Linked DNA regions of Homo sapiens: region 1 is linked to region 2. The links come from fine-mapping of genetic effects on gene expression. Tissue or cell type: subcutaneous fat. Region 2 holds a variant in brackets; the other region holds the start of a gene. All regions are shown on one strand. Distances are between the middles of the regions.

Region 1 (2,756 bases), 960 kb after region 2:
CCTCTCCTACCACCCTGACTCAGCAAGCCAGCCCTCTTGTGGGACTGTAGATTCCTGGCAAGGTGTTCAAACCCTGTGGCTGAGCTACCCCCATCCCTTTCTTAGCTGCTGGATCAGTGCCTGGCACCAGACACTTCTGGGGATGGTACAGGGTGTGACAACATGACCTGCATCATCATTTGCTTCAAGCCCCGAAACACAGCAGAGCTCCAGCCAGAGAGTGGCAAGCGAAAACTAGAGGAGGTGCTCTCTACTGAGGGGGCTGAAGAAAATGGCAACAGCGACAAGAAGAAGAAGGCCAAGCGAGACTAGCAGTCATCCAGACCCCTGCCCACCTAGACTGTTTTCTGAGCCCTCCGGACCTGAGACTGAGTTTTGTCTTTTTCCTTTAGCCTTAGCAGTGGGTATGAGGTGTGCAGGGGGAGCTGGGTGGCTTCACTCCGCCCATTCCAAAGAGGGCTCTCCCTCCACACTGCAGCCGGGAGCCTCTGCTGTCCTTCCCAGCCGCCTCTGCTCCTCGGGCTCATCACCGGTTCTGTGCCTGTGCTCTGTTGTGTTGGAGGGAAGGACTGGCGGTTCTGGTTTTTACTCTGTGAACTTTATTTAAGGACATTCTTTTTTATTGGCGGCTCCATGGCCCTCGGCCGCTTGCACCCGCTCTCTGTTGTACACTTTCAATCAACACTTTTTCAGACTAAAGGCCAAAACCTAATCGTACGCATCGTGTCCTTTTTTTTCTGCTGCCGTGGCCCCCGACTTGGTCCCATCTGTAGCATGTGGCGAGCCCCCATGTGAGTGTGTGCGTGTGCTCGTGTGTGTCCTGCGCGTGTATAGGAGAGCCCAGAGCGAGCTGCTGGTAGGCCGGCCTGGCGGGCGTCGCGGCTGCCCCTCGCCCCCTCCTGCAGCCAGAAATGATCTAGTTCCCCCAGGGACAGGTTGGGACCGGTCTGGCTGGCCTGAAGCCTGGAGTCGGGCAGGACGCCTCCTGCGCTGCTCCCTGGCCGGCTCCCCGCTGCCGCTGATTGGCTTGCTCCCCGCCTCGTCACAATCACTTCCCGGTCACGCCATTGAGGCTCCCGCCGCGGCCGCTTCCCACGGACTACGCGTCCCGTGCGTCTCTGCGGCGGCGGAAGCGGAAGCGAGTACGGAGGTACCAGCTGGTCTCCGTAGGGGGGTAGGGGGCTCCATGAATGGAAGCGGCGGCGGCGGCGGGAGCGGCCTGAGCTGGGCGCCGGGGCCAGGGCCGGGGGCTGCCCAGGGCCCGCGCCGCTGCATGGGGGCGGCCCGCGGGCCCTGAGAGGAAGGGCAGACAGGCGGGCCGAGATAGGAGGGGCGGGGTCGGGCGGCCGCAGGCCGGAGGCGCGTCGGGCTGGAGCCGGTCACGATGCCCCGAAGGAAGCAAAGCCACCCGCAGCCCGTGAAATGCGAGGGGGTCAAAGGTCAGGGGTCAGGGGCCTTGAGGGGAGAGGAGCGGGGGTGGGGTCAGTGGAGTGGGCTCAGGTCAGGGTGGAGGGGGACTCCTGAGGGATGAAGTGGGCGATCCAGACTCCTAGCTTCCCACCGAGGCACTAAGGGAATCAGAGTGGGTCAGCGAGTACGGGAAGTGTGGTCCACGAGGGCTGGTTCCTGAGGGAGAATCCACAAGCCCCCTCCCCTCTTCAGTGGATACTGAAGACTCCCTCGACGAAGGACCCGGGGCCCTGGTATTGGAGAGTGATTTGCTACTAGGCCAGGATCTGGAGTTTGAGGAGGAAGAGGAAGAGGAGGAAGGCGACGGCAACAGTGACCAGCTCATGGGCTTCGAGAGAGACTCGGAAGGTGGGTTTTCGGGTCTTGGTTAAGGATTAGCGGCCGCTGGAGACCCCAGCCCTTCAGGAGGCAGGTTAGGTGAACAGAACACCATTTCCTGCCACAACCGAGGGCTGGTTTAGTTTACATTTGAGCTAGATGACTTCATTTGTTTAATGGTCCAATCACTTCCATCACTTTGTTGAGGTGAAGTTCTGAGGCCTGGTCAAAGGTGATAGGAATAGGAGGGTGGGTGAATCACATGGAGCAACTGATTAAAAGTAAATGCCCTGTCTCTCTCCCTAGCCCATTCCTTATGTGTATTTACTTTTAAGAGAGGTTCAGGGAAGCAAACTCTCTGTAAATCATTCAACCCAGTATTTAGGTCTAATCTAACTCCCTTTCACCTGCAGCGTAAGCTCCTTTTGTATTGAGAGGTTTTAGTTTCTGTCTTTATCCTTCCATGTCCCTCTTCCCTGTGATCTTAGCATCACCCTACCCTAATTTGCTGCACTACCCATCCACTTATGCAAGATGTTTTTTGAAAGTCATTGAGGGGATCCATGTAAATATCTGTTCTTTAGGCAGGCAAGTGGTATTACATGCATTACTTTCATTGTCTCCACTTCCCTCCAAATTTTGCCTCAGAGATAGGTTTTATTTTATATCAGCTCCTTACTAAAAGGGGCCTTAGCAATAGAGCTTAGAAAAAGGTCTTGGGGGCTCTCTCCCTTTCGTATTTTTACTTTCTTGTCTCAAGAATTAATTTCATTATGGATTCATTTCAGTCTGTGATCCACTGTGAGCCCTTGATCCTTGACCATTGAGGGAAACTAGATACAGGTCAATTCTACCATCACTAGATTAGTCCAGTGTAAGAGGTAGACAATTCATGTTGAATTTTCTGGAATTACTGCAGGGGAGACCTTGATTCCTAGGAGGGAACTAAAGGGATCATCAAAGCTAAG
Region 2 (2,756 bases):
TGTAACTTGGCCAAGGATGGTGGCTCATGCCTGTAATCCCAGCACTTTGGGAGGCCGAGGTGTGAGAATCGCATAGCTGAGGAGTTTAAGGCTAGCCTGGGTAACATGACAAGACCTCCGTCTATATAAAAATACAAAAATTAGCCAGGCATGGTGGTACGCACCTGTAGTCCCAGCTACTTGGGAGGTTGCGGTGGGAGGATCATTCGAGCTCAGGAGATGGAGGCTGCTGTGAACTGAGATTGTGCCACTGCACTCCAGCCTGGGTGACAGACTGAGACCCTGTCTCAAAAAAAAAAAAAAAAAAATTTAAAAAAGTAACTTAATAGACAAAACCTCTGGAAACAAGGGAATTTAGGAGCTTGACAGAAGTGACGAGTCAGGGCCCCCAGGTCGCGCTGCTTAGCACAGGCTTACAGGGGAGCTGTGGGAAGAGAGGAGGGGGAGGCGGCAGGTGGATAGCCTTGGGCAGAGGGCCTGGGAGCTCATAGAGGTGGACAGCTGGCAGAGACACTCGAAGTGGGAGTGGCTCCAGCAAGAGGACTGGACTATCGTATGGGAGAGGCCAAAAAAGATTTTGTTGTTTTCGGTCAGTTAAACGCTTAAGGACAGGGATATGGAATGGAAAGGAAGGAGTGAGAAGAGGGACCAGGAGCAACTTGTGCCAAACCTAAAAGGCAATAATAATAAAGATAGGCTTTTCTGAGCACCACTGAGTGCCAGGCACTGGTGTAAGTGTTACAATGCTTATAACTCAGTGCCCTCATCATGGAGTCCTCCTGCCAGCACCGCGTGGTGAAGTTCCATTTTGCAGAGGAGGAAACTGAGATCAACTGGCTTGTTCAAGTTCACGCACCTAGGAAGTGGTGGAGCCAGGTTTGACTCAGGCCGGCTGGTTCCAGAGCCCATGGGCCTCAACTCAGCCAACGAGCCCATTCGCCTTGCCAGGGCTTGGTTTCGCTGAAGCGGGGCTCCAGGCTGGAGTTAGTTTTGTGAAGGGGATTAGCCCTGGTGGCCGCTGGCTGCTGACAGCTGGCAGTTGGAGTGGGCGAGGCTGAGGGGGCCCCTGGGCCTGGGCAGCTTGGGCAGGAGCCGGCGAGGAAGGGGAGGTGCCTCAGGGGGCCGCCTGGGTGTCGGTGCGGGTAGAAAGGCGGGAGAGACAGGCAGAGGCAGCCGTCTGGGTTGTACAACCTGCAGCCCACGCACGCCGAGAGCCACCAGCGTGGAGTCAGGATGAGGAGTCCTCCTCCCACCTGGTGTGGGCTGGAGTCCCAGGAGCGGGTGCTGGAGTGGGATAGCGGGGGATCAGCTCATCTGAAGCCCTGGTTGTGGGTGAGTGCGTGCACACGGATGTGCGTGCCTGCGCATGTGCGTGGCGAGGGAATGCGCCCTTGTGGAATCTCCCCTAGGGCAACCTGGCAGTGTGAGGCTGACCCTTGCCCCAAACCTCCTGTCCTCGGGCGTGACATCAGTCCCCAGCTGGGCTGTGAAAT[G/C]AGTCCCAGTCGAATCCTTCCCTACACCTACTTGAACTTACGTCCCTCATTGACACTTTCAGAGCTGACCCTGGGTAAGCGGCCCTCTTATTCGGCAGACCTCGCCTTACTCAAATGATTTTTGGCCTCCCCAGGATTTGCCCTGATACATTGCTTCGGCTGCCTGCAGGGGTGGGCTCTCCTAGTTCTCTGAAGGGTCAGAGGATCGAGAAGGCGCCGTGTGGGAACCACCTGGAACAGGGCCTGGACTGTCACGCATGGTGCTTGAGAAGGGAGAGGGCAGCTGTCACCTTTAACACCCACCCACCACCTTATTTCCAGATGGCACCCAGCACCCTTCTACGTACTGCTCTACTGGCACCTGCGCAGACAGCCAAAAGTCACCGGGAGCTGCAGCGTTCCGTTTTGGAGCAAAAGCGAGATCATGGAGTTGAAAGGGACTGATTTTCACTTTCTTGCCTGGCTCCTAGGCTCACTCAAAGGGCACGTTTCAAAGAGGCTCTCTGGAACGAGGAGCCTTCTGTGGAGGGACCTGCTCCATGGGACTTTAAGAAGGGGGTGGTGGGCTGTTTTGGGGGAAGATGAGTGTATGCCACACCCTCCACAAGCCATTTGGCTGGCTCATCCCAACGTGTTGCAGAGGCGGCTGGCCCGGGGCAGGGAGGCTCATTCTGGCCATCCCTGGGTTGCTTGTGGGGCTACTTTTCTGGCCATGATGACCCATGATTTATTATGACCCCAAGCACGACCTCTTAGACTTGGGAAGTGTGGTTCCTCCAAAGGGATCAGAGAATAGTGACAGAGTAAATCCAAGAACGCTGTAGAAGGAAGACACTTCTTTAGGCCTCTTAGAGTTAACTGCTTCCTATTCAACCTGGAATTAGTTCACGGACCCTGCTGTCTTTGGTAATACCTCGGTAATTTTCCTTAATAATTGTAACAACTGTTTCACCTTGTTTTCCTCAAATATTAGGCTGTTATTTCAACCAAGTGTGTTTTGGACTTTAACCAGAGACTATGGCACAAATTCTGAAGTCAGGTTTATTTATTTTTTATTTTTTAATTTTTTCCAGCTGTGGGCTGGCTCTGGCTCAGCCATCTGAAAATAAGTTATTTATATATATGTGTGTAGCCATATAGATATACTCATCCACATATACGAAGACCACTTCCAAGTCTTTTTTAGTTTGTTGCATGTGACCCCACAGAATTCCTTGGACCCAGCTGACCAGGGTTTGACACCCACTTCGTGTGATCTGGCCA

Alleles and levels. Positions count from the first base shown, and alleles are read on the strand shown. Sizes are in standard deviations (SD) of each study's normalised expression.
For the expression in subcutaneous fat of the gene that starts at base 1,177 in region 1, allele C in region 2 goes with a lower level than allele G (moderate effect, 0.43 SD a copy in GTEx).

Evidence for each region. PIP is the estimated chance that this variant, and not a neighbour inherited with it, causes the effect.
Region 1: it holds the start of ZNF513, and the variant in region 2 is the best candidate, but not a certain one, in a credible set for the expression of ZNF513 in subcutaneous fat (GTEx, PIP 0.79).

What each region holds. Positions count from the first base shown.
Region 1 is chr2:27,379,155-27,381,910 of GRCh38, reverse strand. ZNF513 (zinc finger protein 513) reads left to right here and starts at 1,177. Exons shown (of 4, transcript NM_144631.6): 1 at 1,177-1,439; 2 at 1,663-1,818. The coding sequence starts at 1,385. PPM1G (protein phosphatase, Mg2+/Mn2+ dependent 1G) reads left to right here. Exons shown (of 10, transcript NM_177983.3): 10 at 106-712. The coding sequence ends at 312. RefSeq lists a silencer at 1,205-1,424 and an enhancer at 2,565-2,756.
Region 2 is chr2:28,343,537-28,346,292 of GRCh38, reverse strand. No RefSeq gene overlaps it. Among named protein-coding and RNA genes, the nearest start is that of BABAM2-AS2, 34 kb to the right of the region's middle. The variant G/C (reference allele first, on the strand shown) is at 1,494.